Linked DNA regions of Homo sapiens: all the other regions are linked to region 2. Evidence: fine-mapped expression QTL. A gene starts in region 2. Each other region holds a variant in brackets. All regions are shown on one strand. Distances are from middle to middle.

Region 1 (4,468 bases), 40 kb before region 2:
CTGTCTGACATCAGACTCTCCCAAAAGGGCTGCAAGTGCAGAAGGATGATATCATGATACAGTAGCATATTATAATTACAGGATGGACATTGTGAATTCTTTGACCACTCCACTGTGGTAAAAAGTGAAATCCAAACTTTACATCCAAGGCAAAATTAGCTTTCTTTTCTTGGCTACTGAACTCTAATTAATTGAACTAAGACAAAAACATCATTAAGCACTACTCACTAAACTTATAATTTTTTTTTCAGGATTAAGATATAAGAGTATTTCATCATCATTTTAGCTGCTACCTTTAGCATAAGCATGTTCTATCATCTTAAAGGGATAATTTAATTTTTAAGAGACTGTAGCAACTAGAAACAAGGATTAAACAGAAGCAATGGTTGCAGAGAACATATAAAATGAGAATACAACTTGTAAAAAAAAAGTCTAACTTGTTAAAACAAGTGATATAAAATTGAGACATTTAAAAATTGAACCCATGTAACAAGCCTGCACATGTACCTCCTGAATCTAACGTAAAAATAAAACAAAAATTGACATTTTCATATTCTGATTACATTCCAACATCAAATAAAATATCCAGCTATGAAAAGGTCATTTTTCATTAAAGACACCCAAGGAATAGTTCTTTATGCTAATGAAAAATACTTGAAAATTTTAAAAAGAGGAACCAAACCATCTAAAAATTAGATTGTTAAGCCATAGGCATATTGATACTTATCAAGCACTGTGCATCTTTTTCCAAATAGAAATTGTATAAAATGCCAGGTGCAGTGGCTCACGCCTATAATCCCAGCACTTTGGGAGGCCAAGGCAGGCAGATCACGAGGTCAGAAGATTGAGTCCATCCTGGCTAACATGATGAAACCCCATCTCTTCTAAAAATACAAAAAATTAGCCGGGCGTAGTGGCACATGCCTGTAGTCCCAGCTACTCGGGAGGCTGAGGCAGGAGAATTGCTTGAACCCAGGAGGCAGAGGTTGCAGTGAGCCAGGATTGCACCACCGCACTCCAGCCTGGGTGACACAGCGAGACTTTGTCTCAAAAAAAAAAAAAAAAAAAAAAAAAAGAAAAGAAAAGAAAAAGGAAAGAAAGAAAAAGGAAAAAAAAAAGAAATTGTATAAAAATATCTGTTTCAATGAAAGGAAGAAGAGATACAAATAAGACCACAAAAAAACCATTAACCCCAAGATTATATATGTATAACTCAACCCCTCCACCAAAGTATTCTATAATTAAGTAATTCATGCATCAGGACCAATGTCTTGCCTCTTTGACAATTTATGAACATTAACTGGGAAGGTTTTTGTTATATATATTCTACTGCATACTGTTCAAAGGGATCCAGAAAAGTAATACCTAACAAATAACCCATTTATTAAGTATGTTCTTTGTATAACAGAAGAGTATCCGGCAAAGTACCTATTCTGGAGCTCATCACAGAGGTTAACAAGATAAATTTAGAAGTTATCCAAACATATTTGATAAGGTGGTAAGAGTGAGTGGCATGATTCACAGACAAGGCAGAACAAGAAGAAAAAGGACCCAAGGCCAATCTCTCTGAAACAGTGGTTCCCAGGTTTTAGGGAGCTTCTTAAATGACTACCAGACTCCATTCCTTGAATCTGATTCAGAGTGTTTGGTGTGGGGCCCAAGCAAATGGGTTTCGTAATAGGTACTACAAATGATTCCAAAAGCAGGTACTGTCTGGAAAAGCCTTTGAGAAAAACTACCCTAGATCATAAAAGGAAAAATGGATAAATTGGACCTTACCAAAATTAAAAACCTTTGCTCTACAAAAGATCCCATGAAGAGGATGAAAAGACCAGTTACAGACGGGGAGAAAATGTTTACATATTTGAATAAGCTCTGTGGATTGTACTAATGTCTATGTCAGGGTTTTGATACTGTACTATAGTTTTGTAAGATGTTACCTTTGGGGGAAACAG[T/C]GAAATGTACACAGTACCTCCCTGTACATTTTTGGGCAACTTCCTGTGAATCTATAATTATCTTAAAACAAAAAGTATTTTTTAAAAATGACTCTCTCTCTCTGTCTCTCTCTCTCTCTCACTGGTAACAAGCCGGTAGGTTATACTGCGGCCTGAAATACATTTTATTCTAAAGGGCTTAAGTCCAGCAAAGGTTGGCAACTCACAACCTGTGAAATATTTAATGATGACAACCTGAATTGGACAGATATTCTCTCCAACTCCATATTCATTCAGATTCAACTGCAAAAGTTGATGTTGTTGTCATTATTATTACTATTTCATTTTCTAAAGTATTATTATGACAGGTACCATAGAAATTGAGTAAATGATATGACTTCAGACATATATGGTAATTAGCATTAAGAACTGTTATGAAAATATTTCCATTTTCTTCCTATTAATGTAATACTGAGTGAACATTCAGTCTTTAAGACTATATGATTAGTATTATTAAATAGCTGAATAAAGTAAATTATTCAACTCTTGAGAAAAAAAAACTGCCACTAGAGAACTATTACTGTCTCAATATGTAAAGCATGAGGCAAGAGTATTTTCAGTGTCTCTAGAATTGTGTCTACTGTGAATAATATTACTAATGATAATTACTAGTGCTTATAGAAGAATTATCATGTGCCAGATACTGTGCTAAGCTCATCATCCTAAGTAGATCAGCTTAACATTCACAACAACGCATGAGGTGGGTACTGTCACTAAAGACTCAAAAAATAGTGAGATTAAATAGCCTGTCCATGGCCAGATCCCTTCTGATGCCAAAGTTCAGCCTCCAGGTACTGAACATCGACTGAAATCTCCCTCCCTGCCCATGTGTCATCACCTCCTTAACATTTCCAGAGGCTGAGGGATCCCCAGGATGATGCTCTGAGTCATGTGAGTGAAATCAAAGACACTGACGTCTGATGAGATTTTTAATCTGACACTAAACATTTCAATGACTAAAGTAATAATATCCCCAGTAATTCTGGATGAAATAGCATTGAAAGCAGAACTGCCAGAAATGAAGGGGTCCTACTCTCAGATGGTTGAGAAGCCTCAGCAAACACAGAGGATGCAGCCATAATAAAATAAGGCCAAGTAAAACCCATGAAAATGGCCACAGTTTTCAGAGAGCAAGGCTGGTTCGCAGGAATTAGATATTCAGCATTGGAAGTTGGTTGCCACCCGATTTCTAACTTCACCTTTACTGTGTATTTCATTTCTGAAGCAAATTCAAGGATTCTTTTTTAAAGGGGAAGAAGCAAATTCCAAACCTATCCAAGCCTGAAAAAACTCCACTTCCCATTTCTGCCCTCAGAATATCGAACAGGTTTCTTGAATCAGCTGTTTTGAAGGTACTTGAAGAATTGTAACAAGTAGAAAATAAGAATGTAAAGTTCCCAATATTACAAAAATAATTACCATCTAGGCAGTACACCATGGGGTGTTTCTACTCAGGCCATCAGGAATTAGCTTTGTATAATTGCTTGATATCCAGTGTCGGTTGCAATTACAAATTATCTGAAAGTTTTAAAAGAGTCAGGTGTTCTGAGTTATTCTGAAGTGTTTCTCAGAGACAGGAGTTCAGCGTATACACGAGTACATCTGAGGCCCAGTAACAGGTCCTACCCCCACTACACAGAATGGAAAGGTACTGCGAGGGATATTTCTGGGGTACTGCTTTTGAAAGACCAATTGGGAGCTGTTACCAGAATAAAGTACTGGGCTGAGTAGAAACCTCAATATTCTGGTAATAAGAAAAAAAAAAACAGCATGTGATTTCAAGACAGTAAAAACAATAAGCAAAATGTAACATGTTACTTAAATGCTAAGAGTAATGAGCTAGGTAACTGTTTCCTCCTCTATAAAGGAATAATAATAGCAGCTAATGATTATTTTGTGAAGTGTGACAGTGTTCTACTCACCTTTTGATTTAGCCATCACGACTACCTTATAGTACAGGTTCTATTATCCCATCTTACATATGAAGAAATTGAGGCTCAGATAGGTTCAATAGCTTATCCAAGATCATGCTGCTGGTTGAACCACAGCTGGGACAAGCACTTTTGAGTCCAGAGCCTTCCCCTCTCTTTAACCTTGGTGCCCTATGTCTCTGGGATTAGTAATTTCCAAACTTGTTTACTTCCTGGAAGTCAAGGTACTCATGAGAAACATAATTTGAGAGTCAGAGGATGAGGGTCAAAAAAGAAAAAAAGCAATAATTGATATATTAAATTTAAAGTTAAAATATACCTTTAAGATGTTATAAAAATATATCTTCATTATCTTAGACCAGATTCTAGAATAAGCAGCAAAATATAGCAAATGTTTAAGAAAAATGTATAGGAAAAGCTTCAAATAGAGGAAAGCTATAATATTATTTTGGCTAAGTGAGAAAAGATATTATTGTTTTACCCAGTTTATGGATCTGAGCAGCAAAACACCTGTGTCTAGTTTCTATGGCATAGGAGTACAGT
Region 2 (4,213 bases):
ATATGTGATCCTATAAAAGTCCAGCAGAACTACCTCATACTAAAGCCAAGAGTCACCTGACAAGTCATAGTAATCTGAAACTGAGGTACCGCCAAAGGTAATCCATCCACTGAATGTATAATGGCGTTATCAACATTGCATCCAAAAATATGAGCAAAACCAGAATTTTTAGGCTTTCTAAAAGCCTGAAATTTTAATTTCAAAATATTTCATTTTTACCTTAAGAAAAATTATTTTTTAGGGAAAAAATATATGAACTCCTACTGCAAAAGAATAATAATAATAAAATCCACCAATCAGGGCCTTTCCCAATGAGGGCTATGCATATTCTCTGTAGGTGATTATTGCTGAATTACACTGCAGCTTCCCTTCGACCTTGGGAACCCTGCTAACTCTCAGAGTTACTGCGAGGTCTTCTGTTTCATTTATTATTAGTCTTTGTCTCCGCAATGCTGTAGCATGTGATAGAAATATCAACGTTGTGAGCTTGCAGTACCCAAAACTGTAGAAATGTTTCCAAAAAATAAAGCGGGGGTTGGGGGCGGGGGGAAGGATGAAAGAAGGAAAAGAAACAAAAACAAAACAAGAGGAAAACAAAGTTAATGTATTAAGATGGGAAATTTCTTATTTTTACCTTGTGAAGACTACATTTCCTAATCAGCTTAGTGATATGTAACCATTAGTATGCAATTTTTAAATTTAAGAAAAGATGTCCAAGAAAATTATTTAGAAAAAAAAAATCACAACTGAATATAATAGACAATTGGCTAAACTTAGCCCAGCAATTTAAAAATGAAAGTTCCTATAGAAAAAACCTTACAGGATTTTGTGTCCAGAAGAGAGAAATAATCTGGCAACCCAGTGGGTTCACTTAGTTTCGTGTCATTTGCTTCATGTCCATTATGTAATGCTTCCCCTAGCTTTAGGTCTCTATGTTTAAGCAACCGTTCAGGTATATCATAGAATTGTCACAAAATCAGTATCTGGTTATAACTTTCAAAAACAGCTTAAAAGGTGCCTTGCAGATGTGTCTATACGCAGCAGAAGCTTTGGGGAGAAAATCCGCTTGTGTCATTACTTCTCCAGGCTTTCTCCTCAGGTCTCCCATTCCCTCCTCCCCCAGCATCCCCGGCGACACGATCTGCGGGCAGCTCCCGGCTTGATGCAGGGGAAGCACGTCTTGACTGCAATGCAAACGCTGTCCCGGTCTGAACCAGGGAAGGCAGACTTGGCCCTGGCCGGGGGAGTGGACGGAGGCTGCCGGGAGGGCTGCAGGGGCGCCAGCAGCGGGTGGGCAGGGGTGCCCCGCGAGGGCAGTCCGCAGTGCACGCGCACAATAAAACCCAATGCACAACTTCCCCAGCCGCTCCTCTCGGCTTCCCCGATTCCCTGAAAGGTGCGGCGTAGGCGTTAGCTCTCGCGGGCGCGGGCGCTCTCACCCGCGCCGGTTCGGTTTTCCGCTGACAATTACATCAGTCCTTCTCCCTGCCCCTGCTTCAATCCCCAGGCAGCCTGCGGGGAGCAGGGGCGCCGGCCCGCGCGAGGGAATGCGAGCGCTAGTGGCAGGCGGCCGGAATTCCCTGGCAACGAGGGGGAGGGAGGGCGGCAAACCGGGACCGCGATACAGACGCCCCCTCCCATCCCGGCCGCGAGAATGGGCTGACACCGCCGCCCCCACTTCCCTGTAGCCCGGGCTATCGGCCGGGGGCGCCTCCAGGGGGACGGCGATGTCCTGGGGACCCGAAGCTGCGGCTGCCCACCCACGCGTCCCTCGGGGTCCTCGGCCCGCCGGAGGCGCACAATGCCCCCGGGCCGCGATGCGGGCACCTTGGCGCCCGCCCCAAGCAATCCCTTTGCAGCTAGGACACCTACCTGGAGGGCGAGCGGTGGCGCCGCGGACTCTGCGGCGGCTGCGCGGCTGCGACGGGAGGCAGGAGGCGGAGAGCCGGCCCCGGCAGGCGGACTGGCGCGCGGGCTAGTGGAGGAGAGGAGGCATGGGCGCCGCCTGCACCGAGCCGCGATCTCCAGCACCGACAGCGGCGGCGGCGACCGTGCTGCGCCTCCAGTGGTCCGCTGCGCTGCAGCCCCTCCTCTCCCACGGGCGGGGCGCGCTGGCGGGGCGGCGCTCCGGGTTCCCCGCCCCCGGCTCCCGCCCGTCCGCCCGGCTGGAGTGGAGCGGCAAGCGGCTGGGGCTCATGCTGCGCACCCGCCCTACCGGGCGCCCCTCCCTGCGCCGCCAGATGGGCTAAGGACCCGGCGCCCTGCGCCCTGGTCACGCGGGGTCCCACAGCCAGGGCTCTCCCCTGGCCCGGCCTCCGTGGGAACCCGTGGTGTCCCGAGATCACCCGCAGTGGAAACCCCGAGTTGCCATCCGCGGGCCTGCGCGCAGTAGCGGAGCCCTCGCCCCGCGCAGTCCGGCGGAGGTGAGCCGGCCGCGCTCGGGAGGGTTGCCCAGAACGGCTCCAGCGCTCGGCCCAGGAGCGCCGCAGCCGGGAGCACTGCGGGAGACCGAATTCCGAAAGGAACGGCTGCCTGGCGGCCTCCGCTCGGGGCTGCCAAACCCATGTCCCTGGGCGCCCTTCTGAGGTCGTCATTTCATACACTTACGCGACTGTGCGTGCCTGCTCCCGTCCCTGACTCGCTCGGGAGCAAAAACTTCCCGGGCCCAGAGAAACACCTGGGTTCTGCGAAAGGAAGAGCCGGTTCCTTCAAGCCCCTGGCAAAGCCGATCAAAGTCAGTCAGTCCCGCCTCACTACAACCCTTCCACACCCTTAAACCCTTCCACACTCCAAGCCACTCCCGGCCTGCGTTCGGTGTGCAGATTAATCTAAAGGCAAATTTGCTGGGAGGGACGGGGTAATGTAAATATTTGTACAGACATTCTGTAAACGAGTGACTGCGGACATGTCAATATTTCAAGACATTTGTGTCATCATCATCTGGGGGTGGGAGGCGGAGGGGGAGTCCAGAGGACATCGACTGGACTTAATGGGAGCTATTACAGAACATGCTGGGGTGCCTTCAAAAATGGAAGATATTGCTTACTAATGAGGCAACTGTGATGGCATTTCATTGTGCCCTGTGCTGACAAAATGATTTGCTATGAAACATAGTCGACTTTATGCACTCCTTCCCACATGCAGTTTCTCTTGAATCTCCAATCTCACCTGTTGGATTAGCTTTTTCCATCTAGACTAGCAATGTTCTCATGTCCTCTGGTCACAAAATAATAGATGCGGGACCCTGCGACAATGGCAGTTTGTCCTTCATTCCTTTGCTGTGAAGACAGGCTCCTCAAGGGAGCAGCTGGGATGCTGACCTCTGCTTCATCACAGCCACCCTTTCTACTTACTCCTTCTGAGTTCCATTAACAGAAACTCTACTGAAATGGCTTTCTCCCTTAAAAGAAAAAAAGCTAAAACCCATGTATTTAAAAAGAAATACAAAAGTGTGAACGGAAATGAGAGTACACACAGCACACAGAATCTTTACCTAAAGAAGTTCTCTAGGCCCGGCGCGGTGGCTCACGCCTTTAATTCCCGCACTTTGGGAGGCCAAGGCGGGCGGATCACTTGAGGTCAGGAGTTGGAGACCAGCCTGACCAACATGGTGAAACCCCGTCTCTACTAAAAATACAAAAACTAGCAGGGTGTGGTGGCAGGCACCTGAAATCTCAACTTCCCGGGAGGCTGAGGCACAAGAATCGCTTGAACTTCCTGAAATCTCAACTTCCTGGGAGGCAAAGGATGCAGTGAGCTGAGATCGTGCCACTGCACTCCAGCCTGGGCTACAAAGTGAGACTCTCAAAAAAAAAAAAAAAGAAAGAAAAAGAAGAGGTTATCTAATTTTTTCTCTGAACCCCTAATAGCAGAGAACCATAAACTATGGGGAAAGAGAGGGGACTACCACAACCTAAATCTCACGTTTTAGTGTAAGAATGTTCTCACGCTTTTCACTCTATTCCATAGTATCTATGTGTGTTTTAATAGTTTTAAAAAATGGCTTTAAACATCAGGGGAAAAAAGTCTCCCCCCATCTCATTGATTAATGGTCAAATAAGAGGTAACGGTACTACACGCATCCATCTGGGGAAATGGGTGGATTAAACACAGCGGGCTGTGCGGAACTAGAGATCAAGGCAGTTTCTCCACCCTATTGGTGCATCAGTGTATCTTGAAAACTCAGACTGGCATAGATATGTAAATATGAATA
Region 3 (4,468 bases), 36 kb after region 2:
CACTTATATCACTTACATATGAAATATATAGAGTAGTCAGGTTCATAGAAACAGAAAGTAGAAGGGTAGTGGTTGAGGGCTGGAGTGAGAGGGAAATAGGGAATTTTTGTTTAATGGACATAGAGTTTCATTTTTGTAAGACAGAGGTTGTGGAGATTGGTTGCACAACCGTGTGAATATCCTTAACACTACTGAACTGTACACTTAAAAATAGTTAAGATGGTGAATTTTATGTTAGTATGATTTTCAATTAAAAATTTTTAGATTAAATTAAATACATTTTTATAATCATTAGAAGAAAATCTAGGTAAAAATATATCAAATGTAAGCATGACATCAAAAGTAAAAGTCATAACAGAGAATGTCTATGTATACAAAGAATGTGTTAATGCTGATTATCTGTTGGCCTTTGTGTTATGGTTACTTTTTAAAATCTTTGATTTGCTATTTTTCTGTAATGAACATTACTGAGTTACATAATGAGGAAATGCAATAAATAATTTTTAATTGGGACAAATGAAATATTGTGGGTTTTTTTGTCATTCACCAAAGATTGTGAATAATTATAAAATTCAGTGTTAGCGAAGACATGAAAACAGCTACTCTTATACACTGCTATGGGAATATCATCTGGTACAACCTTTCTGAAAGGCAATTTAGTCACCTGTACAGGCCAAAATTGATCTGTGGTTTCTAAGTCTCTTTATCTGAATGAATTGCATTCTGTTTGTTTGTTTGTTTGTTTTTTGTTGTTTTGAGATGGAGTCTTGCTCTGTTATTCAGGGTACAGTGCAGTGCGCCATCTCAGCTCATCAACAGCACACAGGAAGCTCCTTACCATGGTGGAACCATTTGCTATCACTTTGACATCTTGTCAAAAAACAAGGGCACGTGTGGAAAGACTGAAAAATGCCTGATAAAGGGCCAACTTTAAAAATAGAAAGGAGATAATTAGGAAAACACAAATCAACATGCTTAATGTTTCTGTTTAGACAAGATCCTGAAGCATTAAGCTGTAACATTTAAAAAATATTTTTCTCAGTAGAAGGAAAAAATGGAAAAAGGGTGTTTGTTTCATAATACTGATAGCATATCACACTTATATTACTTGAAAAAGCAAAAAAAAATTAGTAATATCCAGGACTACCTAATTAGGCAGAATTTTAAATCTGACATCCCTACAGATACAGTTTTCTTAACTTAAACGTTGATTTCTATTGCCTATGGTCTGATAAAAATAGATGTTAACAAACAAAACAGAGCTAATTTGTGTCATAAGAATTAAATCTCAGTCTGTTTCTGCAAAAAATGATTTAATCTGCTAATGCCTGGGGTAAAGGATTTATAGCAATTTTTCAAATAGGAATAGTTCCAAATACTAGCTTTTCCCAGATATTTCCCCCAAGGACTTATTATAAGAGAACTTCAATTGATGTGTAAATGAAGAAGACAACTGCCTACATGGATGATTCAGGAGAGTACCAAAACCATCTATCTTACTAATGCCAACAGATTCATTATCTTCCTTCCACCAATCTCTGGGTATGTTTTGAATGGAATAAGCCTTAAAAAAAGAAAAAAAAAGTTTCTTTCTACTGCAAACTCTTTAAGGAGAATGATACATTACATCCTGTTATGAACTAAATGTTTATGTCCCCTGAAAAACTCATATGGTGAAATCCTAACCCCCAAAGTGATAGTATTTGGAGGTGGGGTCTTTGGGAAGTAATTAGGTCCTGAGGGTGGAGCAGGATTAGTGCCTTTTTAAGGAGAAGAGCTTGTTCTCTCTTTTTCTGTTTCCCCACATCCCCTTCCTCTTCTTTCTCTGCTCCCTGCCATAGGAGGATACGTGGAGAAGATGGCCATCTGCAAACCAGGAAGTGTGTCCTCTCTAGACACTAGATCTGCCAGCACTTTTATCTTGGACTTCCCAGGCTCCAGAACTGTGAGAAATAAATATCTATTGTTGAAGCTGCCCAGTTTATTGTAGTCTGTTATAGAAGCTGGAATTGACTAAGTAAGGCAAGTCAGCTCCAGTAGGGATGAGTTACTCTTCTGAGAAGGGAGGAGCCATGCAATATGAATGCATGGAACACAGGGATCACTAGGAGGCAGGGGTTGAAAGAGGGAGAAAATAGCAAAGAAAAGGGTGGTGGACCAGACAAACTTGTCCTACACCTTAACTTGCCTTCCCAAGACAGACTCTGGCTTCCTCTTAGGCTTTTTCTGTTCCCATTCTCAGCGTCTATATCTTTCCACTTCATGCTGTTTGATCAAGAGAGGGAAAGTGGAGCAGGCAAAGAGAAGCTCATAAAATTTTAATGTTATAAATTATAGCCGTATTTAATAGTCAGAAAGTTGAAAAATAATAGTCCTTTGTAACTCCAGAGAGAAACCAGTTACCGAGATGGCACAGGTAGGCTTTCGGAGAGGCAGACTGTGAGTCAGAGATGAGCAGGCAGGAGGTTCATTAGGCATGCTCCAAGGATCATCACCTAGGACAGGAAAGGCAAGGAAACGGAAGGGACTGGCAGAGGGAGAAGTGGAGCCGTGATGGATTGATGGATTCTCAATGAAACCCTTAGCCCTCTGGGATGTTCTGAAGCAGGGATGACCTATCAAAGATGCCTTGAATTGGGGCAACA[G/C]GGCTAGGCCTTTATACCTCTGCATTGACCAGTGATTGGATGTAGACCACCCCAGAAAGGGACTGTCACCTTAGGCAAGGAATCTCTCTTCAACTGAGGAAATTCCTGAAAGGAACTGACAGCTGAGGGCTGCCTTGTCCACAGCATTCCTTGCTGCTTGGGGAATAAAACCTTGAGTCCTGAAGGGGGAATCTGAGCAGTGCATCACAGTGACCACCACAGAAAGAAAACTTGTACCTACCACAAAACTTAATGTATGTTTAATAAAATTTGTTTAATAAATGAATATCCTTGTTCTGTCTTGCAAATTGTCCCCCTTCCCAACAAAAAAATAAATATGGTATTATTAAAGTTTTTATAGACAATTGTCTTCGATAACTAGTTTTTCTCATGTGAAAGACTGGCAAGATATCGTTCTGTAGCTAAACCTGTGACCAAGGAAAATGGCATTATGTGACAAATATCTGTGAGAGTCTGCTGTAACTTAATGTACGTTTAGTTTTGCATTTTTGTGAAGAACAATTTGCATTTTGAAGCCATGTTAAACATACAGAAAACTTACAGAAAGAGGACAAAGAACTTTTGTTACTTGAACAGTTTGAGAGTAAGTTGCTGACCTGATGCTGTATTACCCCTATACTTTAGTGTATATTTTCCTATAGACAAGGATATTCTCCTATTTAACCAGAACACAGTTACTCAAGATCAGGGAGTTAACATCAGCACATTGCTATGATCTAATCCTTAGACCATGTTCAAGTTTTGTCAAATGTTCCAATGTAATTTATAATAAAATAATCCAGTCCAAAATCAAGTACTGCATTTAGTTCATCTCTTTAGTTGTCTTCAATCTGGAACCATTCCTGTCTTTCCTTGACTTTCAGGACCCTGACACTTTAGAAGATTATAGGTCATTAATTTTTATAATGTTCCCCAGTTTAGCTTTGTCTGATATTATCTTATGATAAGGTTATGCTTCTTTGGCAAGAATCTCACCGAAGCAATGCTGTGTTCTCATTGCATTCTATCAGAGGGTCTACATTTTCAATTTGTTTTATTACTGAGATGTTCACTTTGATTATCTGATTAAAATGGTATCTTCTAGGCTCCTCTATTATAAATTAACCTCATTTCCCTTTTTTTATTCATAAATATTTTGCAGGACATACTTTGAGGCTATGTAAATATCTCATTCTCCACTAAGTATCAATTTATTTATTTATTTATATGACTGAACTCATAGATTTATGCTTTAATCAATTTATTACTATTATTTACTTTGATGCTCAAATTGTTCCAGATTTATCTAGTGGTGTACCCTTCAAGCTGACTTCTGAGTCATTTTGACTTGATGCTTGCACAATTTTGGGGGGCACTTCTTACTTTCTAGCCTAGTAAGATGTTCCAGGTTAATCTTGTATTTCCTCTGCCCTAATCCTGAAATCAGCCATTTCTCTGAGCTCTGTTATTTTTTATTTTTGGAGACACAGTCCCTCTTTGTTACCCAGGCTGGCGTACAGTGGCTCCAGCATAGCTCACTGCAGCCTTGAACCTCCTGGGTTCAAGCAATCCTCTCACTTTAGCCTTCTGAGTAGCAGGGACTACAGGTATGCACTACCACACCTGTCTAATTTCTAAAAAATTATTTTTGTAGAGACAGGTTCTTGCTATGTTGTTGATATGGTTTGGCTCTGTGTCCCCACCCAAATCTCATCTTGTAGGTTCCATAATTCCCATGTGTTGTGGGAGGGACCTGGTGGGAGATGATTGAATCATGGGGCTGGGTCTTTCCTGTGCTGTTCTATGATAGTGAATGGGTCTCA
Region 4 (4,468 bases), 96 kb before region 2:
GTATTCTAAACATGAAAAAGTCAGCAAATCACCCTGCAGTTCTCAGATCAAGTGTTACCTCAGAATAGGCACACACCTTGTCACTTTCTAGAACAATACTCTTTTCATTTCCTTCATAGCTCTTATCTCACGCAGTATTTATATTATCTGTGTACTGGCTTACTGTCTGTCTCCAGAGACCTCATCTGTCTTGTTTCCTGCTCTCCTTGTTATAACCCCAGGGCCCATAACAGTGCCTGGAGGATACTGAGTGGACACTCAATAGACTTTGCTGGATGAATGAATGGATGGATGGATGAATTAAAGCCTGTCTGAATGACCAAACACTTGAGATATAGAGGGGATGATGTAAGACACATGATAAAAGACATCTATTTAGATGACTCTTAGTTCTAAAACGTTAAACCTTTAAATAACTAGCACCAGCCATATACAGTTGAAGTTTTGGGGAGCGTGTGTGTTTTTCCTTCATCTTTGTAGTCATTTCTTCCAAGAGCAAAGTTTAGAATTGTTGCTTGGAAAGCCAAACCTTTCAAAGGAGATTTGTGTTGTTGGTTCACTGCAACAGTAGTTCCTGTCATTAATCATTTGATATGCAAAGTGAATAAAGTAAAATTTTAAATTACCATCAAAGTTAGACTTATTAAAATATTAATCATTCTTCTGTATGTAAAACATATTTGAAAAATAATTCACAAATGTTGGATTTCAATTTTATGGTCATTTGGGAACAAGATATTTTGAGAAGACGGGTTAAAAGTTTACTGGAAGGTCCTGTACCAATCATTGAGTTTCGGGGAAAAAAAAGTTTACTGGAGGGTGGGGGATGGGAGGAGGAGGGAGAGGATCAGGAAAAATGACTAAGGGGTACTAGGCTTAATCTGGGTGATGAAATAATCTGTACAACAAACCCCCATGACATGAGTTTACCTATATAAAAAACCTGTATATGTACCCCTGAACCTAAAATAAAAGTCAAAAATGAAAGTTTAAAAGACAAAAGGGGGAATGGTCTAGATCTCCATCTTCCCTTCCATTGCCTACCTCTGAGATTCAGGTTCAAGGAATTAACTGGTTGTAGGAAAAAGACATCAAGGATGAATGGATGGATGGATGGATGGATGGATGGATGGATGGCAGGCAGGAAGGAAAACAGGGAAGGAGGAAAGGAAAAAGGGAGGAAGGAAGGAAAGAAAGGAAGGAGGGAGGGAGGGAGGGAGGAAAGAAGGAAGGAAGGAAGGAAGGAAGGAAGGAAGGAAGGAAGAGACTACCTGTTCCTATATTTTCTATGAACACTAACATTCTCCACGGGTCAGATATAACAAAATGTGTCCAGGAAACAATGCACTTGGTCACTTGACAAACCAAAGAAGAGAAAACCATTCCAAAACAAGTACCGTAAGTATCCATTTATCAAATAAAAGGAAGCAATAAAAAGAAGAAGCAATAAAATAAAAACACTGGAACACCTTCAGTCTCTCTGCTTTATTTAGAGTGTTTATCTTTCCTTTGTTTCTGGACCTGCATGATGATGAACAGTGGACACTAACAAAGCCATTCAATATGGCACACACTGATCTACCATCCAAAATGTACAATCATCCCACTGTCACTCCTGGAACACCTGCGTATGATGCAGTGAGTTGCAAATAACTCAGATAATCTGGTGAACTAAAGATTTAATAGACTGAATATCACTGCCAAGAAACATATCAACATTAATACTAAAAATGGAGTTGGGGAGAAAAATTCATCTTCTGTCTTCATACAGAAATTTTGAATGACTAAAAATAATAGTGATAATAAAAGGTAAAAAAAAAAACACCTCATAGTTAACTCTTTATTCTGTAAGATTTTCTCTACATAAAAATATAACAATAATTAGTAGTTTTCATGCTGAAATTATTAATTTGAAACTATTTTGTGTGCCCAAAGGATAAAGTAAATACATTTATAATGCTGTTTTGAACCAATGGTTTCAATGTAAAAGAAAAAAGATACAAATATAAAATTAAAAAATTAAGACTCCATAAAGTTAACTCAGGAAAATCAGCATGAACTCATCATTTTTTTTTTCTTTTTGGACACATGTATTTCCCACCTTGTTTCCTGAAAAGGCATGGAAACACTGACAACCCATGGAAATGAGCACCCCTAGTGCCTGACTATAGTTTCTAAATTCTGTTTCCTATTAAAAAGAACCAGGCTGCTTAGAATGGCTGATTCTTAGACTGGGGTATGGAATGCACAAAAAGAATTTGGGGCAACCTGTTGTATCAAAAAGTAGAGTCAAAGAAATTAATAGGACCAGGGATGCTTTGGGGATGTTCTGTATCTTGGTCTGGGTGCTGATTATATAGGTGTGTCCAGTATGTGCAAATTCACTGTGATTCACATATGATAGGTTCTCTTTTCTATACGTATACACAGGAGCCAGGTTGAAAGGGCTCATAATGAACAAAGAAGGTTTTGTTTGAGCATCAAAATGAAAAAAAAAAAAAAAAACCACTACAATTAAGTATGTGAAACATAACAAATATTTTTTTAAATCCTTGAATTTACAATGATTCTCAAGAAAAAAGGGAAGTTTCTC[G/A]CTAAAAAGCAGAAATATCACCTTTTGAAGAAACTATAGCACCAACTCTGATATTGTCAATTACTAGGGAAATATTAAGCAATCACCCTGCCCTTCCTATATGAACTGTATTTCAGGGCCACCAAATACTAGTTGATGATGGAAGTTCTTTATAAAAGAATGACAGCTAACAAATGTAGAAGGAATAATAGGATGGGGTGGGGGTCACCATTTTTATAACCCCTAATGACATAATGTATTCAGGCAATGATTATTGGCTGACAAAATCATGAAGTGAAAAAAACGGATGGGGTAACTTTAGAACAGGGGGATCAGGATGTTCTTCCCCGAAACACGGTCCAATGACAGCATCACTAAAAGTGGGGTAACTAGACCATATGTGCCTCCTGAGGTGGCACTACGTAAAGTACACAGCAAAAGGAAGCAGAATTCTTGCCAGAATAGTTAGATCTGAATCCAATCAAGCCTCTTGATCTAACTTCCAAGTTCTAGTAAATCTGAGTAATAGAGAAAAAAGTTAAGTAACAACAATCAGCCAAACCTAGTATGTGGAAAGTTCTATTCCCAAAGTGGCTTAACTTCAACAAGTGAATGACTTGAGAAAAGAAAGGGAATATTCTAGATAAGAGTTTTATGAGACTCAATAGCCAAATGAAATGTATGCACTTCTTCAGATCTGGTTCAAATAAACCAACTATTAAAAGAGAATTTTGAGACAATCAGGGAAATTTGAATATGGAATGAGTAGTAAATGATACCAAAGAAGTATCATTCATATTGTTAGGTGTGACATGGCAATATGGTTCTGTAGGAAAATGTGCATATTAAAATATGCCTACTGGAAAATGCAGGGGTGGATATGACATGATGTCTACTTCTAATGACTTCTGATAAATGGAGAAGGAGATAGATGAATCTGAGTGTGTGCGTATGGTTGTTCATTATGCTATTCTTATACAAAAGCCTAAGTTTGAAATTTTTTCAAATGAAATGTATTTTTAAAATATAGAAAACAAAAACTGGCTGGGCACAGTAGCTCACGCCTGTAATCCCAGCACTCTGGGAGGCCGAGGCGGGTGGATCATGAGGTCACGACTTTGAGACCAGCCTGGCCAATATGGTGAAACCCCATCTCTACTAAAAATACAAAAATTAGCTGGGTGTGGTGGCACGCATCTGTAGTCCCAGCTACTCGGGAGGGTGAGCCAGGAGAATCGCTTAAGCCCAGAAGGCAGAGGTTGCAGGGAGCCAATATTGCACCACTCTACTCCAGCCTAGGTGACAGAGCGAGACTCTGTCTCAAAAAAAAAAAAAAAAAAAGAAGAAAAAGAAAAAGAAAACAAAAATCAACAGAAGAAAAAAGTCTTAATAAAGAAAAAACGTCCCTGGCCGGGCACGGTGGCTCACACCTGTAATCCCAGCACTTCAGGAGGCCAAGGCGGGTGGATCACTTGAGGTCAGGAGTTCAAGACCAGCCTGGCCAACATGGTGAAACCCCGTGTCTACTGAAAATATAAAAAATTAGCTGGGCGTGGTGGCGGGCGCCTGTAATCCCAACTACTTGGGAGGCTGAGGCAGGAGAATCACATGAACTCGGGAGGCAGAGGTTGTAGTGAGCTGAGATCGCGCCACTGCATTCCAGCCTAGGCAACAAGAGCGAAACTCCCTCTCAAAAAATTTAAAAAAAAAAAAAAAGTCCCTTTTCCCTACTATTTATATATGAAAACCTTGATATGAACAGTATACTCCTTTTTTTCCCCCACTTAGTTACTTATACAGTTATACATACTTTTACTGGATATGTATTCAAGGTACAATTTATTTTTCAGAACTGGTCTAAATCTTTCAGGTGTTTGGGCGACTCATTTTTCTAAA
Region 5 (4,000 bases), 130 kb before region 2:
ATCTGCAGTGTTCTCTCACGAGCTCATTGCTAGGAAGGCCAGATGTGAGAAGGAGCCTAGAAGCCAGAATATACAACAGTCCCTCCGCATAGGTTCTATTTTACCTTGCAGCTTGGGAAGAGCTGACAAGCATTGGTTGTGGAGTTGGACAAGTCTAAGTTTGAATTCTTGCTCTGCTATAATCCTTGATAGCTTATTTACTTATTTATTTATGTTTTTACTATGGGCAAGTTATTAACTCTCAGTTTCCATATTTGTAAAATGTGATAAATACCTACACTGTGTGGAGCTGTTTATGAGAACTATATTAAATGGGATAATAGATTTAAATACTTCTCATAGTGTCCGGTGATGCAGTACATGGGCAATAATGGTAGCTGTTATTATTTTTATTGCTGGATGCAGTTTTTTTTCTTTTCCATTAGCTGGGCATAGAAATATTTGTTTATCTCCAACAGGGAAGGCAATAGCTTCTTTTTCCTTCTTCCCTTAAACAGAATTTTGGACCTTTGAATGTAACCCTACAAATCCCAGCAAAGTATACATTCTCTGTTCTCTCTTATAAAGGGCAGAGAAACTCTACTCCTTGGAAGCAGAAAAAGTGCAAAGAGTTGCCTACAAGTGGCATCACAAGTATTTTAGGGGAGTCAGGTGTAAACGTTATTCACAGTTCAATTGGCCCCAGAGCAGGCATCATGCCAGCAGAGAAAGCACCGCATTTCATCACTGACCTTGGAGAGGGGGACTGGCTCCGGTTCTAGCAATTGCCGACTTACAGAGGGCTCGGTGCTAGAGGAAGCAGTCCTCTCCAGTATGTGAATACTCTGAAAATAAATGAAAACATAGCCCAGGGTTAGACAACTCACTTTTCATGTGAATGTGCATGGGGATGAAATCATACACAACACAGTCAAAACAGTGAGCTATGTTAAAAATGGCAAGTTCCTGAAAAGACCAAAGATAGCAGCAACAGACAGAAAAATATGTCGGCACAGGATTTTCCCCTCCTCTTCTAGATTTGCTGCTGAACTGCTGCTGCAGTGCCGGTTTCAGTCTTGGAGAGTCAGAGGAATATCTCTCGAAAAATTTTATGATACACACAAGAAAACTTACAACTTTATGACAAAGACACACCTTCTACTTAGACTAATCAGGCTTACATAGAAATATTTGCTCATCTCTCCAACTGGGAATAGCAACAGACAAAAAGAAAGGTCTACCTTAAAAAATCCAGTGGCGGCCAGGCATGGTGGCTCATGCTTGTAATCTCAGCACTTTGGGAGGCTGGGGCAGACGGATCACTTGAGGTCAGGAGTTTGAGACCAGCCTGGCCAACTTGGTGAAACCCTGTCTCTATTAAAAATACAAAAATTAGCCCGGCATGGTGATGGAAGCCTGCAATTCCAGCTACTTGGGAAGCTGAAGCAAGAGAATCGCTTGAACCTGGGAGACGGAGGTTGCAGTGAGCCAAGATTGCACAATGCACTCTAGCCTGGGCAACAAGAAGGAAACTCCATCACAAAAATAAATAAATAAATAAAAATCCAGAGCCTTCACACCCTTCAGTCTCTAAAGTTTCTTACAAAAACGCACAGAGAAGAAAACAATTCACCAAATACCATAAACGGTAGGTGTCTTTTACAAAGAGCATTTATATATTAGCAAGATAAAATTTC[A/G]ACAGAAAAATGGGTGAAGTACACGAATAGTTAACACATGTAAAACATTTGAAAAGATGTTCTAACTTAGAAGTATTCAAAAAGAGAATCAAAATAATAATTTCTTTTACCCATCAGATTCAAGAATGAAGTGGGGTTGGAAGAAAGAAAATATAAATTAGATATGATCTTTCTAAAGCGGAATTTTGCAATTATATTAAAGCCCTTGCGGGGGAAAAAAAGTACATGCCTTAACCTAAATTACATAAATCTACTCATTAAGAATACTTCACTATCTTGGCACATTATGAAAGCATAAAAGAAGGAAACAAATCTTGTTTCATGCACTCTTCAAATACATGAGAGCGAAACTTCCCTACTGTAAAGACTACAAAGATTTTTTTTAAAGGTTTTTTTTTTTTTTTTTTAAATGCATGAGGTGATTTTTCTAAAAAAGAACCATGGCTAATAAAGATCAAAGATACGAGTGTCACTGTAAAGATCAAAGATACAAGTGTCACTGTATTACAGAGATATAAAATGCTTCCCCCACCAACAAATAAATTACCTTATACTTTGAGATAATTTTCCATAGGAAAAGAAGTTTCCAACGTAATTTTTGAAATAACCATTTAGAAATTACACACTTTAGTAGCAAGTTTCTCCCTCACTATTTAATAGAATATCAACAAAAAACTTCATTCAAATAAATATAATAAAGTACAAGACCAGAAACTACCAGTGAAATACGTTATTTATTCATTCATAGTTCAATTTATCAACATGTCATTATTAGGCACCTACACTTTGCCAGGCACAGATGACAGGGCCACAGAGAACAAAACAGACAAGAGAACTACTCTTATGATGCTTATATTCTAGAAAGAGTTCTTATCATACAAAAGACCAAATCATGGTTAGGACTTCTTTGTAAGCCCACATATTAACCTTGTTTCATGTGGCTACTGCTTTTGCTTACTTTAATCTTCCAGTCAGGTATCTCTGATCTGAGCTTCTCTTTAACGACTCTCCCCGATCCCCATCCTTTCAGGTTGCTGGGCAATAAAACACAGATACATCACCAACTGTTTCCCCCACCTCCAAAAAAACGTGGTAAGAAAAACAAAACCTGGAAAGAAACTTGACCTTAGTAACTATGTAGGCAGGAAATAAAGTAACTAAGCTAGGGAAAGGAAATTAAATCCCCTAACTTCCAAGTCAAGCCATAGATATAGAAATCAATGTGGTATATTTGAAGTGTGATGGAAATAAATTTTTCCTGTATAGATACGAGGGGATACTTAAGATGTTGCCAGAATTATGTGGGTCAGAAGGGTTAGTTAGCAACCACACAAACCAGGACCCACAACTGTAAAATACCTACCACAGTACCTAGCACAAAGAAAACAATATTAGTCTCTTCTCCATTTGATGTTACAAAACAGTTTATATTATGGAAGAAAAATAAGAAGTTCAATCACTTCAAATATAGCACAATATATCTAAACCCTAAATTCTGTTGATTTGTCAAAGCCCAGAGAATCATAAAAAACATTTAGTGAGACATAGCAAGTAAATGAATATTTTTATTATCACTAATGTATGTATTTGTTACTGAAAAAGTTAAAGGACAATTTAGAAAACTACCAGCTGCTACCCATTATTGTAATTGTAACTAGCTTCAAAAAATAAGCTATTCCATGTAACCTCCAGGATGACAATGAAGAAGCCAACAGCTCTTGTAGAAACTCACGAGTCTAGAACCTATCATTGTCTATTCAATAATAAAAAATTAATCCACTACCTTGAATTTTCTCCAAACTCATGGTTTTAAAAAAAGCATAACCCTAAAGTTATGTAATTATATACCAAGCAATTTGTTATTTTAAATGAAATATCTAAGTAATTGAATGTTGTATTTTTTTACACCAGCAGCTATAAAGAAGACAGTTTAAACTGACCATACCCAGTCCTGGCCTCTAGCTAGATTGAGTGCTCCTTGAAGGTGGGGACAAGCTCATCTTCATCCTGGAATTCCATCTTCTCTACCCGTAATCCACCCCATCCTAGCACAACAATCTGCACACTGAAGCCAGTCAAAAATGTGTGGAATTTTTTAGTGCTAATTTGCAGAGAACAGTCCTTCAGCAATCAATTACCTTCCAGCTTTATCTTGGAATTATTATTATTATTTTTGAGACAGAGTCTTGCTCCATCGCCAGGCTGGAGTGCAGTGACACAATCTCAGCTCACTACAACCTCCGCCTCCCGGGTTCAAGAGATTCTCCTGCCTCAGCCTCCAGAGTAGTTGGGATTACAGGTGCGTGCCACCACGCCCGGTTGTA
Region 6 (4,468 bases), 300 kb before region 2:
ATGCCTGTAATCCCAACACTTTGGGAGGCTGAAGCAGGAGGACTGCTTGAAGCTAGGAGTTTGAGACCAGCCTGGGCAACAAAATGAGACTCCATCTCTACAAAAAATAAATTTAAAAACTTAGCTTGAAGCCAGGAGTTTGAGACCAGCTTGGGCAACAAAATGAGACCCCCCCCATCTCTACAAATAATAAATTAAAAAACATAGCCAGGCACCGTGGTGTGCACCTGTAGTCCCAGCTACTCAGGAGGCTGGAACTTGGGAGTTTGAGGCTGCAGTGAGTTATGATGGTGTCACTGCACTCCAGCCTGGGTAACAGAGTGAGACCCTGTCTCTAAAAAAATAAATAAATAAATAAGTAAAAAGGCTGTGACAAGTCCCATCAAACCCAATTCATATCATTTAAGTTAACCTAGCAATTCCCAAATTAATCTGGCCATAAAACTCATTTTCATGGTACGCTTGCCTCAGAGGAAACTATTAGCCCATCAAATACTGATTAGAAAACAATTCTCTAAATAAATCTAGGCAATAATCTTTACTAAATCTCATAACTAAATTTGCTGGGATAGGTAAGAGAACCTAGGAAGAAGTTAGACCCTATTCTCCTAACAAATAGATCTTCAGGTAATTGCTGAAACAGCAACAAGGTGGCATTCTTACTCCTATAAATGGACTCCTAAAAACACTTTGATGCAATAAACTTGAAGTCTCATTAAAGCTTATCTCACCTACAAATTTCTAACAGCATGCTAGAGCAAATTTATTAGCTCAGAAAGGACAACGAATCTGCCACCCCTGGCAAAAAGAGGACTTGTTCTGAGCAATAAGGAAGTAAGAAACTAACACTGAGCACCTAACAGTAAGCAGGTCAGATCGTTTGCAGTGACTCTCTGATATACACTGTATTTTTACACATGAAGAAACTGAAGATCAGCTACTCTGAGGGTTCAGATCCAAATGCTTAGTAGAGAATACCGTTCCCACCGGAATATGTTTCAAATTCCTTCTAACTCCTTTAAAGATATACGTAATTGTACCCCATTGTGACTAAAATCTCATTCCATTGTGTAATTCTTACCAAGCAGAATAGAGCTCCCCAACTTTTTCTTTGTCACAGCACTTTGTAATATTTTCCTAGACACTGGGGAAAATGGATGAAGCAGCCTGTGGGCAGGCCATGCACAGCCCCTCCAAGGAGAAGGGAATGAGGACACTAGCACAAGTGCTCAGCTCATCAGCTAAGAAGCTCGAATATGAAACAGTACAAACAAAAAAATTCAACTTGTTAGCTGTTCCCCGCCCCCCAACTGCCTGCTTCCACCCTTAAAAATAAATACCAAAATGAAACGAAAACCACATGCAACATTACTACTGAGGGAAAAAACCAAAACAAGAAGTTCAAACCATTTGAACAGGAGAAGGTGACACAGGAGAAACTAAGGGATCCGGATGGTGCAGTTGAAACATCTCAGGTTTAAACTTGGCATTGGCTATCTTCACACATTCCTCAAGCGTTGTGATGAATGTGTTACACGTGGCACTAAGCAGAGAAGAGGCTTCATTCATGTTCTGAAAAATTACACAAAGACTTGAACAGATTTGCATACAACTACATGGAATCATATACAACCTTATCATTAAATAATAAGACATCTCCAACAGACACATTACTATGTTATGTTCAAATTTATTTAAAATACAGTACCTTAGAAAATTAAGCTGGGGCAAAAAAAGAAAAAAGAAAACATTAAAACATCTATGTATAAGAAATGCCTGTCTCCTAAACAATGTATGAAACTAGATTCTAAGAAAAAATAAGCTTTGCATTTAATTATCATATTGAAAAACTGTGTACAAAAGTTTATCTTAGAGAAATCTAACCTAAACAGTAATTTTCACTTTCCCAAAAGTGGACACAGACATGGAATACCCTTAGAGTTAATTAGTGGCAGTACAATTCATGCCTACCCTCTATCCATTCTCCCACTTCTTCCTTGATAGAGTAAAAAGCCCAATTTTGTTCAGGATCGCAAAGTGCCCTGATCCTGGGGGATGAATAGAGACTGATCTAACCTAGTCATGGCTATTCCAACACTCTTTACTAAATGCTCATTTTTTCCTAGTTTCCTTTGAGCCGGAAAAAAAAAAAAAAAAAAAAGATGAGAAGTTGGCTAGGGAATTTCTGGGATTTTTGTTTCCCGATTCAAAACCAAGCACAGCAAGTTGAGAAGGACTCTCTCTACCCTGGCAACCCCACTGCCTCCTGCCTCTTTGTGAGCTTGACAGTCATCTTGACACCTGGGGCATTAGGAGAAAAACTCAACACACCAAGAATGGCAGAGTGGAAGGATGGAACAAGCCTGGGTCCCTAATACTGTCACTGAGCTGCTGTAGCAAGTGTGAGGTCAACTACCTCCAGGGAGCTTGTGGTCAGTTTGTCCTTGGGCTTCTTACACAAGATTCCTCCCCAACAGGAGAAGGCCACAGAAGAAATAGGAAGATTTCTTGCCCCACTTCTACCAAGTTAGGCAAAAAGGGACAGGCAACATGCTGGCCTTTCACCCAGAG[AGT/T]GGTATAGCTCACTGGTCCTATTTTACCATGAAGAATGAGCCTATTATAGCCCGATCCTACTAATCTGAGTTTTGATTCCTAAGTCACTGTTCTGAGAAGGATTTGTTTTAAGTTATTTCATAAAGATAAGTTATCAACTCTCATAGTTGAAGCAGGGACCTTATTACCAAAAAAAGAGAATAGCAGCTGTCCAGTGAATTTATGCCGCTAGCCTGGAGAACAAAGCCTGGAATGCTTCTTCCCCACTCCAACCTCCAAATTATCAGACTGGCTGCAAAGACAAGCCTTGACCCCTGGAGAAATATGCTACTTCATGTTCTTCTCTGGCCACACAGACACAATCGAGAAGATGCTACAGATTTCCAGATAGTATACAGTAGGCAGAACCCAGAAAAGCTGAAAATAACTCAATGTGAAAATGCCTGTCATCTTATGGAATGACTGAGGATCCCCCCAGAGTACTCCAAAGCATAACCACACGTGAAGAGATCCTCTTCGCTCTACCTCTGCACTAGGAGATGAATGATTCTCATCATGGTGAACAAATTCCTGTATTGTATGAACTTGCTGCATTAAGAGGTCACAGTAGAGGCGAAGTTCAGACATTTTGGTTTTCAGCGATTCACTGGTTTCACTTATTTCTGAAAAGAATATACATAAATATACAGTTAGATCATTTTCATATTCTTTGAGCAATGTAACAAAATGTAATCATTTAAAAAAGCAATGAATATAAATACCTATAGCTCAAGAAATGTGAGACCTTGGAAACAGGATACAAGAGCCCTAAGGAAACATCTTCTCTTCAGATAATTGGGAAAAAGCTGACAGTTATATGCCTGCCATGTTTAGGTGATTTCCAGAGATAGGATGATGACCACTGGATGTTTTATACAGGATATTTCCATTCCATTACTCATCTTCCATTTAAAAAGTGCTTGGTTTTCTTTTGTGAATTGCTTTTTTATTTTGTCCTTTATACATTTTTTCCAGTTCTGATGTTGGTTTTTCTCTTAACAATATAAACTGATAGTTTGTAAAAGTTCTTACAAATTAAAGATAGTAATCTTTCCTCTATCTTATATACTGCAAATACCTTATCCAGATCTGTTAGCTTCCTTTCAGTTTTCTTTATTTTGGCTTACAGAAGTTTTAAATTTTTATGTAATTAAAACTATTGTTTATAAACATTCATTTATTTTCTTCTGTTTCTTTCAGTTTCATTCTCACATTATACTATTTTCAAAATTTTTTATTAAGAGCATACTTTCTTCCTTAGTATGTCCAGACAAACTAAACATCCAGCCATAATCTCAGCCACTCACAAGCCAATACCTTTTAAACTAGAAGTATAAGCTACAGAGGAGGAAAATTCATAGAGTAAATTTCTGGTGCTTCTCCACACTCCCTGGGCCAGGCCCCAGTGGTCTTGCTCTCTGGTCCTAGCCACAAAGCCACTTTTGCCAGAATGGACAAAGCAGCTCTATCTGCGCATTTAATCTAACCTAAATCAATTCCTGCTCATATTTAAGCCTATTCTTTCTCCTTTTTAAAAAAAACTGTGGTAAAGTATACATAAACATAAAATTTACTATTTTAACCACTTTTAAGTATTCACTTCAAAATGTGCCATTAAGTACATTCGTATTTGTAAAATCATCACCACCATCCATCTCCAGAACGTCTTCATCTTCCCCAGCTGAAGGTCTGTACCCACTAAACACTAACCCTGTTTCCACCTCCCCCTGGGCCCTGGAAACCAACATTCTATTTTCTGTCTGTATAAGTATGACTGCCCTGGGTATTTCATATAAGTGGAATCATAGACTATATGTCCTTCTGTGATTAGCTTTTTTTTTTTTTTAATCATTATTATACTTTAAGTTTTAGGGTA
Region 7 (4,468 bases), 430 kb before region 2:
TAACGCTAAGTAAACTCTTAAGCAGTGCAAAATCAGTCTGGATGACAGGGCACAGCTTCTTAGGAATTTTATATCATAGAACTGGAAGAACCCCCAAGTCTCTTATCTTTGCTGTCAGAATGACCCCTATCTGTCGCACCATTGACATCTGATTTTCCCATTCCTGATGCTTAGACACATGAAAAAGGAAGAAGAGTCCAACTTTCATTTGCAGTTTTGAACAAAATTAATAGGTTGTACAAATTATTTAATCACAGGTTTAATTGGTTTGCAAAATAAGTTTAATTGCTAAAATAAATGGGAAGAAGAGTTATAGCTTGTTGTTGCATGGCAAACACCTTACATACAGAACATAAGGTTTACTTTTAGCTTGCCATAGCTGATATTTTCTTTCATCCTTTCATGAATTCGCTTTTCTAAGTTCTTCCTTTATATGTATATAAGCCCAGGGGCAGAATGGGGGCACACATATATATACACATATACGTATATACTATATGTGCTGTATATCTACGCATATGCAAAAAAGACCACAAATGTAAACAGAAACTGGCCTGGGCAATTTCAATGTGAAAGGCCACCTAGTAATTATATAAAGGTAACTATGAAACCCTAAAATTTTCTTGAAAGATCCCAAACTGCATAGTATTCCATGGTGTATATGTGCCACATTTTCTTAATCCGGTCTATCATTGTTGGACATTTGGGTTGGTTCCAAGTCTTTGCTATTGTGAATAATGCCACAATAAACATACGTGTGCATGTGTCTTTACAGCAGCATGATTTATAGTCCTTATACCCAATGCTAGATGATGAGTTAGTGGGTGCAGGGCACCAGCATGGCACATGTATACATATGTAACTAACCTGCACATTGTGCACATGTACCCTAAAACTTAAAGTATAATAATAATAAATAAATTTAAAAAAAAGATCCCAAACTATTGGTTGAAATGATTTTTGAATGCATACGTGCTAAATAGATGATTATAAAACAACTTGGAAAGCTCTATTTCCATTTATTTTTATCTAAATGAATTAAATGCACCCATATACTAGATTGCTGTTTCATGTATTCTTTTTTTAAAAACAACTAGGTGGTCCCACGTTCAGAAGGAAAAGTTCATACACTTACTCTGAGGGATGTAAAGTTAGAAGATGCTGGGGAAGTCCAACTAACAGCAAAAGATTTCAAAACTCACGCCAACCTCTTTGTGAAAGGTAATTACAAGGCTTATTTTAAAAACATGTATAAGGCAGAGGCTCATGAACAATGCCAACTCTCAATTATCTTTATATGATGAGTACTATAGATGTTTAAAATCAACCAAATAATCAAAAGTCTGATTTTACTTTTTAGCATAACAAAATAATTCACAGACTATCTTTTTAAAGAGCCAAAATTGACTAGCATAGGTTTTACTTCCTCCTTCCATCTCTATTGTTTTTATTGCACATCCTAGATTTTCAAAAGCCAGCTGGAGGAAGAATTATTATCAAGCTAGGTATCCATCACTTTATTAACCAAGAGTTGGCTGTTATTTCCTTAATGTTTCCTAGTTTTTAAAAATGATTTTCCTCTTGTCTGTACAAATAATGATAAAATATCATTTTTAGAGGAAAATGTCTGAGTGTAATCAAAACTTGAAAATAAAACTTAGGACAGAACAAAGCCCTGGAGATGGCAGGGGAAAGTTGAGAAGGTACCAAAACTCTTGGAGAAGGAAAGGAGTACCTTGGCTAATGAGTATGATTCTTTCAGAACCCCCAGTTGAATTCACTAAGCCTCTTGAGGACCAGACGGTCGAAGAGGGAGCCACTGCAGTGCTGGAGTGTGAAGTCTCCAGAGAAAATGCTAAGGTGAAATGGTTCAAAAATGGGACAGAAATCCTCAAAAGCAAGAAGTATGAAATTGTTGCTGATGGCAGGGTCAGAAAACTTGTTATACATGACTGTACCCCAGAGGATATTAAAACATACACTTGTGATGCTAAGGATTTTAAGACTTCCTGTAACCTGAATGTCGTGCGTAAGTATTCTTCTTACAAAGGACTTTTCATTTGCAATTCTTTAATAACTACAACAACAAAACAACACAACACTTTTTGCATGCCCTTCTTGGCCTAACTGCATTTCTTGGCAACTTCTAGTATTGACACTGACCTAACCTGATCCTTTATGTGTTTAAAGAAAAAAAGAAAAGAAAAGTCTTATTCTATGTCTGGTCTGATTAATGATGGAGCAATCACTTTTCCCTATGCTTCTTTTCTCTCACTGAGTAGTGAGTAGATGTGCTCTTTGTCTACATGGGGTCAGCCTACTGTATGGATATCCTGATATGGATGAGGAGAAACTGAATTTTAAAGATAAGTAGGGAGTCCTAATTTTAAAAACAAAGTAAAAGTGATTTCCATGTGGAAGGAAAATGAATTTTCAGGTGTGGGGAACAACTAGAAAATGAGCATGAAATTTCAGTCTGAATAG[G/A]AGCATACTAGAGATCTGCTGTAATATGACAAAGCACATTCACATGATTCAATCTCTGAGAATAAGAATGGATAAGAAGATGGAGTGAGGCCCTGGATCTTTTGAGTCCTGGACTCTTTGAATGAAGAGAACTCTAATGGTTTTTAACATTACTTCTTCCTCTGGTGAAAAATGTAATGTCTTTTTTCAAAATGCCACATACTAGCTTATTTGTTTCATTCATTCCTTTGTCCAGTGATGACATTTTTCTGCAAATTTTTTGTGCAATATTTGTTTGTTTGGTTTGGTTGCTTCCCATCTGTCAACAGCTACAACCTAGTGACTCTGTGCTTCATGCATCTTGTACCATGTTTTTCTTACCACTTTGTGGTTGCTCTGCTCAAGCTTATGTCAAAGTAGCTTCTTGGGTCTCCTTCTTCACCTTGACATCTACCTTCACTCCAAGAAGGCTCAGCTGCAAGGAGCATATTTTCAAACCTATTAGACAGCATTTGTCTCAGAATCTTATTGCTCAAGAATGGTCATCTTGGGAAGGACTCACAGGGAGCTCTGAAAGAAGGAAGGGCAAGGGGGCAGCTCCCTAATCCTATACACCAGCTGAATTAATTCTACAGATGAATGAAATAACAGATGTAAAATCCTAATCACCCTCCCATACAAAACACATTGCTTTATTGCACTAATAGATGTTATGCCTGACTTATATGTGACGTCTTCAAAGCTGATTTTTTTAAAAAGCTAAATGTATGTTTCAATTACAGCCTCATGCCTCTTAGCCATACACAAGGCTGGCCATAGTGCTTCACGTGTTCTATCTTTGAATTCTGCTAATTTCTCAAAGATTGTGCTAAGTGCCTTAAATAAGACAATGTTTCTTTGCCACTGGTGTCTGAAGTTTCCTTTGACATTATCTTTCAAGTCTGGTGCAGTGCAAATGAAGATTTTTCCTCCAGCTATTATTCAAAAGAACTGAGATGGCTCCCTAGTATATATACTGTACACACACACATGCACACTAGTTGAACATATAGAATGCCACATAATTTTATGTAAACTAAAGAGATATCTAAAAAGCAAAGCATCATACCTGATGGGCAGCTTCAAGTGATTTCAAAGTCAGTTGTAGTCTATTAAGATGGAAAATCCCTAAAAAAGAGTCACTTTTTCTTAATGTATACTATGGTAATGTCAGAGTAAATTTCCAGAAACCTCATTTTGAATTCTGATGACATTCTCTTACAGCTCCTCATGTGGAATTCTTAAGACCACTCACCGACCTTCAAGTTAGAGAAAAAGAAATGGCTCGATTTGAGTGTGAACTTTCCCGAGAAAATGCTAAGGTCTGTGACTGTATACCTGTCATCTTGTACTGTCAAATAACTTTATATTTACTTTTGGTCTAGCCAAAATGGAAAAAAAAAAGTTAGTCACAACTTCTCTGGTCACCACTTTACTTTTAAAGATAATTGTAGTATAAAATGTATTCTTGACTTTAATTGCTCTCTTTTTAGTATTATTAATTTACTATTACTTGAAAAACACTGGACTCACAATCAGGAGATTTAGATATTAGTTTGAACCATATGAAAGTGCTGTTTTCTTAGATCAGAAAGTCAAATATCAGCAATTATATTTCTTTCAACTAAGTACCTCCTGTTGCTATTAACTACCATTGGCAAGTTTCTTCAAGTCTGAGCCTTAGTTTACACATCCAAGAAGTTAGTCTGCATAATGTCTAAGGCTCACTATAGCTCTAAACTTATATGATCCCATTGTTTTTAATAACTGATAATAGTATCACAGCAGCTAACTTAACAGTAATTGGTAAGATTGTTCTTGCTTTTGGGGTTTGTTTATATTTGTGTCTGCCACCTTGGTTCTTCTTCACACTATGAAGTCTTGTTGGTTGCTTTCAGAAAAACTCAGGATCATAGTTTTTCTTAAGGACACCTGTGTGAAGGAACAACAAGAAAACTGATAATCT

Which allele goes with the higher level. Positions count from the first base shown, and alleles are read on the strand shown. Sizes are in standard deviations (SD) of each study's normalised expression. Not every link is listed here.
As copies of G replace A in region 4, the expression in sigmoid colon of the gene that starts at base 2,035 in region 2 goes down (small effect, 0.33 SD a copy in GTEx).
For the expression in cerebral cortex of the gene that starts at base 2,035 in region 2, allele A in region 7 goes with a higher level than allele G (small effect, 0.37 SD a copy in GTEx).

The links. PIP is the estimated chance that this variant, and not a neighbour inherited with it, causes the effect.
Region 1: its variant is the best candidate, but not a certain one, in a credible set for the expression of OSBPL6 in whole blood (TOPMed, PIP 0.81).
Region 3: its variant is the best candidate, but not a certain one, in a credible set for the expression of OSBPL6 in tibial nerve (GTEx, PIP 0.55).
Region 4: its variant is the best candidate, but not a certain one, in a credible set for the expression of OSBPL6 in sigmoid colon (GTEx, PIP 0.85).
Region 5: its variant is the best candidate, but not a certain one, in a credible set for the expression of OSBPL6 in lung (TOPMed, PIP 0.67).
Region 6: its variant is the best candidate, but not a certain one, in a credible set for the expression of OSBPL6 in putamen (GTEx, PIP 0.85).
Region 7: its variant is the best candidate, but not a certain one, in a credible set for the expression of OSBPL6 in cerebral cortex (GTEx, PIP 0.58).

Annotation. Positions count from the first base shown.
Region 1 is chr2:178,232,006-178,236,473 of GRCh38, reverse strand. All of the region lies in intron 1 of OSBPL6 (oxysterol binding protein like 6), which reads right to left. Among named protein-coding and RNA genes, the nearest start is that of OSBPL6, 40 kb to the right of the region's middle. The variant T/C (reference allele first, on the strand shown) is at 1,956.
Region 2 is chr2:178,192,334-178,196,546 of GRCh38, reverse strand. It overlaps OSBPL6 (oxysterol binding protein like 6), which reads right to left and starts at 2,035. Exons shown (of 25, transcript NM_032523.4): 1 at 1,873-2,035. RefSeq lists silencers at 1,051-1,345, 1,792-2,481.
Region 3 is chr2:178,155,770-178,160,237 of GRCh38, reverse strand. No RefSeq gene overlaps it. Among named protein-coding and RNA genes, the nearest start is that of OSBPL6, 37 kb to the left of the region's middle. The variant G/C (reference allele first, on the strand shown) is at 2,646.
Region 4 is chr2:178,288,462-178,292,929 of GRCh38, reverse strand. The region is part of intron 2 of OSBPL6 (oxysterol binding protein like 6); the gene reads right to left. Among named protein-coding and RNA genes, the nearest start is that of OSBPL6, 96 kb to the right of the region's middle. The variant G/A (reference allele first, on the strand shown) is at 2,594.
Region 5 is chr2:178,321,001-178,325,000 of GRCh38, reverse strand. OSBPL6 (oxysterol binding protein like 6) reads right to left here. Exons shown (of 25, transcript NM_032523.4): 4 at 732-824. Among named protein-coding and RNA genes, the nearest start is that of CHROMR, 91 kb to the left of the region's middle. The variant A/G (reference allele first, on the strand shown) is at 1,677.
Region 6 is chr2:178,492,600-178,497,067 of GRCh38, reverse strand. PLEKHA3 (pleckstrin homology domain containing A3) reads right to left here. Exons shown (of 8, transcript NM_019091.4): 4 at 3,079-3,215; 5 at 1,408-1,572. Among named protein-coding and RNA genes, the nearest start is that of PLEKHA3, 14 kb to the right of the region's middle. The variant AGT/T (reference allele first, on the strand shown) is at 2,572.
Region 7 is chr2:178,622,026-178,626,493 of GRCh38, reverse strand. TTN (titin) reads left to right here. Exons shown (of 363, transcript NM_001267550.2): 241 at 1,098-1,221; 242 at 1,763-2,029; 243 at 3,727-3,824. Among named protein-coding and RNA genes, the nearest start is that of TTN-AS1, 100 kb to the right of the region's middle. RefSeq lists an enhancer at 4,245-4,468. The variant G/A (reference allele first, on the strand shown) is at 2,485.